Regions from separate parts of the Homo sapiens genome. Here region 1 is linked to region 2. The links come from fine-mapping of genetic effects on gene expression. A gene starts in region 2. The other region holds a variant in brackets. All regions are shown on one strand. Distances are from middle to middle.

What was found. PIP is the estimated chance that this variant, and not a neighbour inherited with it, causes the effect. A credible set is the group of variants that fine-mapping cannot tell apart.
Region 1: its variant is the best candidate, but not a certain one, in a credible set for the expression of BFSP2 in spleen (GTEx, PIP 0.54).

The regions. Positions count from the first base shown.
Region 1 is chr3:133,451,875-133,456,268 of GRCh38, forward strand. All of the region lies in intron 4 of BFSP2 (beaded filament structural protein 2), which reads left to right. BFSP2-AS1 (BFSP2 antisense RNA 1) reads right to left here. Exons shown (of 4, transcript NR_189064.1): 2 at 3,455-3,589. Among named protein-coding and RNA genes, the nearest start is that of BFSP2-AS1, 37 kb to the right of the region's middle. The variant A/G (reference allele first, on the strand shown) is at 2,632.
Region 2 is chr3:133,397,580-133,401,973 of GRCh38, forward strand. BFSP2 (beaded filament structural protein 2) reads left to right here and starts at 2,477. Exons shown (of 7, transcript NM_003571.4): 1 at 2,477-2,993. The coding sequence starts at 2,505. TMEM108 (transmembrane protein 108) reads left to right here. Exons shown (of 6, transcript NM_023943.4): 6 at 1-196.

The DNA.
Region 1 (4,394 bases), 54 kb after region 2:
ACCCATTTCTGACTTTGTAATCTTGAGACAGAGGATGAAAAGTGACAAGGAAGGAAAATGTGGAAAAGTAGAGAAAATAAGGTAGATGTCTGAGTTAAGGCAAAAGGCTGTTTCTGAGCTCTTGATTACTATTTAGTGGTTCTTGATCCTGGCTACGCAGCAGAATTATTTCAGAGCATTTTCAAAAATCGCCATCCCAGACCAACCAAATCAGACAGAGGAGAGGGACTTTGTGATTTTTAAAGCTCTCTGGATGATTCTAATATGCAGCCAGATTTGAGAACCATAAGAATTATAAAAAGCTATGAAAAGAAAAATAGGAGAGGCTTTTCTGTCCTTTCTCCCACCATACTCCCTCTATCCCCCAAGTATCAACAAGAACCTTCCCAGCAGGGTCTTCATCAATTCTGGATTCCCAAAATGTTCTCCAGCCTAGAAAACATCCTTTCACTCACCCATTTCTCCAACCCCTACCCCGTTTCAATAGCTTCCTTTCTTTCTAACCACCAATCATTGAGCCAGGTCACTACAAACACTTTTTTATGGCAAATAGAGCCTAGTTATTCAAAAAATGACTTCCCCTCGCCCCACCCAACCTGATGAGAAGTGGAGCAACACAGAGGTAAAGTGAAGCCATAGATTTGAGTTTGGTCCATTGCCTTTTTTAACAGACTCATGACAGATAACAGATAATTAATGGTCCTAGAGACCATCTGATCCCATTCCCTAATTTTAGGTGTGAGGAAACTGAGACCCAGAGAGTGCAGGTGACTTCCCACGATCACACAGCTGGTTGAGAGCTCCATAGTTCAACTCTCCTGTTCTTGGTCCAGAGACCTTTTCTCTGCATTGGGCTGCATCGTTTCTCCCCTGGCTCTGCTTCTAAAGCTAAACCTCAGAGGCCCAGCAGTTTGCAAACTTTGCTTCTGTCCCAGCCCTCCTGCGGTGTGCACCACACTGTGGTAACTGTTTCTTTGGGAAAGGACAGACTATTATAATTATCAGAAATAAATCCTTCATAGTATGAAAAAGAAAAAAAAAAGGTCATTATTATCTCCTCCTCACCCCTTGGAGAATCATCACTAGCCCAACAGTAACTCAAACATTAATTCTGAACAGATTCATTAGTGTTTTTTTAATAGAGTAATCTGAAAGCTACATCTCAGAGAAAACAGACAGTATTTGTTTTAGCTTGGCCAATGCTGCCTGGGCCTCTTGCAGAAAGGCAGAGCTCAGAAAATATTTGCAGAATGAGTGAATTCCTCTGATCATCAACAGAGATCTGAACTGACAGCCAGAATTCCTCCAATAAATAGTTTTGTCAGTTGCAGTTGTGCCCTCAGGGGCTGACATTTGCCCATCCTGAGCATCTCTTGTCGGTTTCTTGGCGGCATAGCATAAATGTGAAATGGCTTAGCACACACAGCTTTCAAAAGCTTTTGTAAAGAAAATGCAAGCATGCATTTAATTACCTTTCGGACCACAGAGGCTGAAAATTAATTAACATGATTAATTTATATCTTAGTTTAGGTTCCTTCAGAAGCAGATCCTGAAACAAATATTGGAGTTAAGGTAGTTTACCTGGAAGTTGGGGAGTTAAAAACCAACAAAATACCAGTAGAGGAGAAGCAAAGAAGGGAACCAACAAAGAATGCCTAATCAAACCAGTTACCACTGTGGGAGACTGACGTGTAAACCAAGAAGAATTGTGAGAAACGGTATAGACTACAGGAGAGGGGAAAGGCAAGGGAGCTGAGATGTTAATACCATCTCCCAACAGTTTTCTGCCATCTGCTATCAGAGTGGCCTTCCAAAGGCTTCAGAGAAACTCTCAGGCAAAAAGATGCAGAATCTGGCAGGGGGAACAGGAGAGCACTAAACTGCGAAAGCCTAAGGGATAAAGGTGGTACCATCAGCATCTGCTAGAACTTATCTGCCAATTCTGTTTATTTTTTCAGTCATTAAAAGCTTAATAAAATAGAGACATAAAAAAATTTATTAAGAGGTTCTGGCTAAGGTCAGTGCAGTATTCATATTCTTTCCAGCTATGGTGTTACGAATGTCAGGAACCTCATGGTCCAGTTTTTGAAGCTTCTGAAGTTGTATGATTCAGTGATGACAGGATCAGATTGGTCCAGAGAATTTCTGGAGGGTCTTAAAGTCTAGTTCTTCCTTGTCTATTTGTTGTGGTTACCTAATGCAGGGTACTCAGGGATGCTTCAGGAACCTCAGACAACATGCCACACCACACTCTAGACCTCCTAGTTAGTCAAGTAAAACAAAACAACTTTTTTTTTAAGTTGGGCACTGTGGCATGTGCCTGTAGTCCTAGCTATTCAGGAGGCTGAGGCAGGAGGATTGCTTGAGGCCAAGAGTTCAAAGGAGAAGTACACTATGATCATGCCTATGGATAGCCACTCTACTCCAGCCTGGGCAACATGGTGAGACCCCATCTCTTTTTTAAAAAATCCTTTTTGTCCCCTATGCTCTTACAAAATGCTTCTGACACCAAATATGTAGGTTTGTTCCACACCAAGCAGATCTCCAAACACCAACTGAGTGTCCTATAATTCAATTCAATCCTGACACTACCTGCCTGAAGTAGTATCAGATCCCACAGGTTAAGGGCTC[A/G]GTCCCATAAGACAGCCCTCACTTCAGATGACAAGTCTGGCCCTCCCATACTTCGGATGAACTGGCTATAAATTAGGGGTTCCCACAACCTCCTCTGCAGAGGGATAAGTAGATAGTTTGCTAGAACAGTGCCCAGAACTCAAGGAAACACTTTACATATTTTTGCCAGCTTATTATAAAGGATACAATTCAGGAGCAGCCAAATGGAGGAGATGCTTAAGGCAACGTATGTGAGAAGGGGCACAGAGTCCCCAACTCCAAATTTTTGACTCTATTATAATAACACTTGGCTTAAAATGCAAACACGTCATACAGCTATACAAAAATATTCTTTCTTTTATCCTTATTCTATAAGCTTGTTTTCTATTTTTAAGAGGGGGTTTTTTTAACCTTTTAAACTTTTTTTGTTAAAAACTAAGACACATACATACACATTAGCCTAGGCCTACACAGGGTCAGGATCGTCAATATCACTGTCTTCCACCTCCACATCTTGTCCCACTGAAAGGTCTTCAGGGGCAGTGACATGTGTGGAGCTTTCAGCTCCTGTAACAACAATGCCTTCTTCTGGAATTCCTCCTGAAGGACCTGCCTGAGGCTGTTTTACCGTTAACTATTTTTCTTTTTTAATAAGTAGGAGTATGCTAATGATAAAAAGTATAGATACAGTAAATACATAAACCAGTAACATTTACTATTGTTAGCAAGTGTTATGCACTGCACATAATTGTATGTGCTAGACTTTTATATGACTGGCAGTGCAATAGGTTTGTTTACACTGCATCATCACAGGGTCTCACAAAGCTGCAATCAAGGTACCCACCAGGGCCGCATTCTCATCTTCAGAGTTTGTTCGGGTTCTTGGCATCGTTCAATTCCTTGCAGATGTAGGCTTGAGGTCCTCAACTCCTAGAGGCCAGTCCTCCTCAGAGGCCATTTACAACATGGCTGTTTGCTCCTTCAGGGCCAACAGAAAAGCATTACCATTTTAAGCCTTTAATCTGATTAAGTCAGGCCCACTCAGATACTCCTCTTTTGATCAGCTCAGATTTAGCTGATTTGGAACCATAATTACATGTCAAAATCTCTTCATCCTTGTCATCTAACATAATTTAATCATTGGACATAACACCAGAGAGCAGAGATCATGGAGGCCATCTTAGAATTCTGCCTACCAGGCCCCTCAGTGTTGAGCAGAGAACTAAAACTCTGCCCCTCCCCAAACCCCCACCATCTCACCTCCTCTGCCAGGCAAACAGCTCTGCCCTCAGCCCACCTCCTGTAGGGGAGCACGGGTCCCGTCTTTCTTGTCCAATTTCTCAGCCGGGGCACTGAGACGTCTTTGTTCCCTCACCCTAAGCCTGGTCTGAAGTCTGCCTCCTGCAATGCAAGCTCTGTTTTGCCTTCTTAGCCTTCTTCCTGAGATGCTCCTTCCATTCAATTTCCATTTGCCCAAAGCTGACTCCACACTTTCATTCCCAGAGGCCTCATTTCTCCATCCCTTGCCTGCTGCAACTGGTTGATGTATACAATACCCAAAGGCTTAATCAATCACCAGCACAAGTTGGTGGTTGCCCGGATGTGAGAGAACTCAGTCTGTCTTAAGAGTCCCCAGGGTCAGGAACAAATGGATTGCTCCCATGCTATCTTCTCTAACAGCAGGTCTGCACTTGCCTCAGGTCAGTTTGAGGCATCTGCGGTCAGGAACTTTATCTGAGCTGTAACCATCATGCCTTCATGTCACATGTCAGGATGACAGATTG
Region 2 (4,394 bases):
ACTGTTACATTTAATATACCAATGTGTGTAAGTATACAGAGAAAAATCTGTTTGTAAAGTAAAATTTATATATAATATATGTAATCAAAGATACATATGTTATATATACATATGTGGATGTATGACTTATTTTTCCTTATCCACAGATTTCAGCTACCATGTATATATAAATAAACTTATTTTATTAGCCAGAGGATTCTGTTGCTAATACATTTTGCATTCTTTTCAAGATAAGCTCTAAGTCTTCCTTAAGCAGTACCAACACCACTTTATATCCATCTGTATTTTTTAATCTGATTTAACAGTAAGTTGAGTTTTATGTATGTGATGAGCTAATAGGATTAGCAGTTTATCATTTGATAAAATAAATCTTTTTGAACATGTTTGCAGTTTCTCCAAAACAGACTCATCTTTCATCAGGTCTTTGGAGACAGTGGTGTCAAAGTACATCCCCCCCTCTTTCTCCCTGTCTCCAGGGCTGAGTGGATTTATATAGTAAATATCTTTGGTCCGGAGAAGTCTGAAGTTAACCTGGCCATTGAGTGTTACCATTCTGTAGAGAATAACAATGCCTAAACATGACACATTTGTGCACAACTTAATCAGTAGCCTGAACTTTTCATTCAGCCTTGGACAATACATCTTGGAATTCACAATAATGCAGATCCTCAGAACCAAGTCAGTGTCATCCGTATAGGAGGCTGTTACTGTAACACAGGCTCGCATGCCCCTTCTGGGTGCATCAGGGGTGGTGTTCACAGCATTAATGCTACATCTGAATAAACAAGGACACTACTGGCCTTTACTTAATCCAATTGGTTCTTTCATCTGTTCATCAAATAGCCAACACTGATATTTATAAAATACCTCCCAGGCCATCTCAGAGAGACAAAGTGGAAGACAATAAAGAAAGGAAGGGTTGGAGTGTCCTGGTCAGTAGGAAGGAAGTGCACACAGGGTCCTCTAGTAGGCGACCAGGTTTTTTACCTCTACCTGCGTGACCTCAGGTAGGTACTCTGCTCTCTGGGTGGTGGGCAACAGGGAGGCTCCTAAGTAAGTCAGTGGCCCAGAGTTTGGAAGAGGTTGTCTGCCCCCAGCTCTGCTACTTTCTGGACATAGAACCTTGGGCAAGTCATTGCAGCTCTCGGGGTCCTCCTCACATAAGAGGACAGTGGCCAACTGTAGGACATGTCATTTTAGAGCTGTGAGGTACACAGCCCATATGGCAGTACCTGTCAACCCTGGACCTCCTTCCTCCTGAGGTTGAGTTGAGAATTCCACGAAATAAACCATAGGATTCATGCACACACCAGGCTGGATCTGCTACTCACTAGAGATTGACTCCCTTCTCCTTCTCTCACCTGAGGTACATTCCTACATTACAGCATCTGGAAAAGTATCCAGCTCTGGGGTTTGGTGACCTGGTTTCTCCAGGGTAAAACTTATGTACAGAGGTTTTTAGGTCCATGTTGTCATCCTGTAACTGGGGGAACCTTTCTGATCCTAGAGAAGTGATTGAGGTGTGACCCTTGGTGGCTTAGTGGATGCCAAGGTCAATAATTAAAACCCAGGGGTGTCATCATATCCTAACTTGGGGCACCCTTGGAGAGGCTTACCAGAAAACACCCTCGTTGTTGTTTTTATTTCTCAGTTTTCCAACAGATGGAGAAGCAGAGGTGTAGGGAATGGCCGGAACATGTGTGGGATCTGAATTTGCCCAAGGTCCTTATCTGGTGCATCAGAGAGTTAAAGGCCCAAGCCAATGTTCAGACAGTGAGGTCCAGAGGGAGGAAGCATCCTGGCCAACAGCAAGCAGCTGATGAACAGCAGAGCATTAGAGGACAGAGATGAGGAGGAAAGGAGAGAGGTGAGGGAAGGACCTGAAGCTGCTGCCAGGACTGAGAGAGGAAACCATAGGCAAGTCTTTTCTCTTGGGTCCCTGGAGCTGCCTCCTGCCATTTTTCATCCTCTATTGCCTGTGTGGACATGTGTTCACATTCACATGTGCCAGCACACATAGGGATGTAGAAAGCCCTGAAATAGCTAGATTGAGTCCTAGCTTGTAATCTGAGGTCTGGGGCAAGTGATCAGTACACTTGTCATCTGAGGTCCTTGAGCCTCAGTTTACTCATCTGTAAAATGGGGTTGCTTGATGCCTGCCTTGCCCACTTAGGTAGTAAAATGCACAAACCCAAATGGTCTACCTCCACAGCCTGCACTGATCCAGCCTCCCCCACCACCAGCAGAATAATCTGGGAGGTTGGGCACATGACCCTGCATCAAAGAATGCATGAGTGCCTCTCTGCACACAGCCCTGGGCAGTGCCCATTTCTCTTTCAGCTCAGTGAATGATGGAAACTCATGGAAGACAGCAGACAAAGCAGCCCCAGGGATAGGGGAGATTCCAGAGAGGCCCGTGACCAGGCCACAGGGATGCTGGGGCTGTAAACCAAAAGCCACTGGACTCTGTAAACCCACTGGGCACCACAGAGGCAGAAGGGGTGATGAGTGAGAGGCGAGTGGTAGTGGACTTGCCCACCAGTGCCAGCTCCAGCATGCCCCTCCAGAGGCGCAGGGCGTCCTTCAGGGGGCCACGGTCATCATCCTCCCTGGAGAGCCCCCCAGCCTCCAGGACCAATGCCATGAGTGGCCTTGTCCGAGCACCCGGGGTCTATGTAGGAACAGCACCCAGTGGGTGCATAGGTGGCTTGGGTGCCCGTGTGACCCGCCGGGCCCTCGGCATCAGCAGTGTCTTCCTTCAGGGCCTGCGGAGCTCAGGCCTGGCCACCGTGCCGGCTCCAGGTTTGGAGAGGGACCATGGTGCTGTTGAGGACCTAGGGGGCTGCCTGGTGGAATATATGGCCAAAGTGCACGCCCTTGAGCAAGTCAGTCAGGAGCTGGAAACACAACTGCGGATGCACCTGGAGAGCAAAGCCACACGCTCGGGAAACTGGGGTGCCCTACGGGCTTCCTGGGCCAGCAGCTGCCAGCAGGTAAGTGTCCAGGCTGTGCCAAGGGCTTTGCAGAGGGCTGGGAGGGGCTGCTGAAGGCAGCGGGTAGGGTTGTGAGTAGGCTGAGGCCAGAGAAACTGACCATAATCCCCTACACTTTCACACTTAAAATGGTAATGATAACAACAATGCTACCTTTTACCGAGGTTTACTAGGAGCCCACGCTAGCCCCCATACGTGCACTACCCACTGTCTTCTTTAAACTTCAAAGAAATGCTATGCAGTGGATCATTCACTGATTGCATTTTTCAGATGAGAAACTGAGGCATGTAATTTGCCCAAGACTTCAAAGCTAGTAGAGGGATGGAGATGAGATTTGAACCTGAATTTTTGTGCCTCCAAAGTTGCATTTGCCCCATTACCCTGGGGCTGCCTCAGTCACCTTTACTGTTGAGAAGGGATTTTTACAGCTATTATCCAATCAAATACCATTGGATGGATGAGGTGTTAAGAACAATGAATAAATGGAGGTGTGTTCCTGTATCCACCTACAACCACGCTGTTCAATAGAAATATGAACTACATTGGTAATTGACAAGTTTCTATTACCCACAGTAAAACACGTAAAAAGAAGCAGGTGAAGTTAATATTATAGCTTATTTAACTCTATATGTCCAGAATGTTATTTCAACATGTAATCAATACAAAATATATTAATGAGGTAATTTACATTCAAGTAGAGCTTTCTGCGTGATGGAAATATTAATATCTTATATCTGCACTGTCCAATCTGGCAGCCACTAGCCATATATGGCTATCAAGCACTTGAAATGTGGCTAATGAGACTGAGGAATTGCATTTTTATTTTATCTAATTTTCATTAATTTAAATGTAAACAGCCACAGGTAGCTAATGGCTATCTTATTGGACAGGGAAGGATGCAGAGGTTTCATCTTTCTCCCTTGCTTGGTCAGCCCTGCTTTTCCCACTCTCCAGGGTGATTTCTGCGGAGTCTGGAGCACATCCATCATGTCTGGCCTGCAGCCTGTAGTTCTAATGCTGGGACTCCAGCCAGCATTACACCTCTCAGCTGGTCTCTCTGTGGATAGCTGGCTTCACCTCTCCTCCTCCTCTTTCTCTCCAGATGCTGGCCTTGGGATCCCTCTGAGCAAAATCAGTCTCTAACCCACCAGGGACTGCCAACTCAGACCCTTGGCCCCCTGGAGTCCAGTATGCAGCCTCCCAAGAGGAGGTCACAAAATTTTATTTGTGTATAGCTGGGGGAAGCTAAGCAGTTGCACACAGGGACTCCCCATTTGCCCCTCCTGCCTCCCACTTCATCCCAGGATGCTTCTCCTGCACTGCTGTCAGTGCCCACTGACAGCACAGAGTGCATGATGAACAGCACCATCCTCTCAGGCTCTCCCCCTGGTGCTGCTGTTC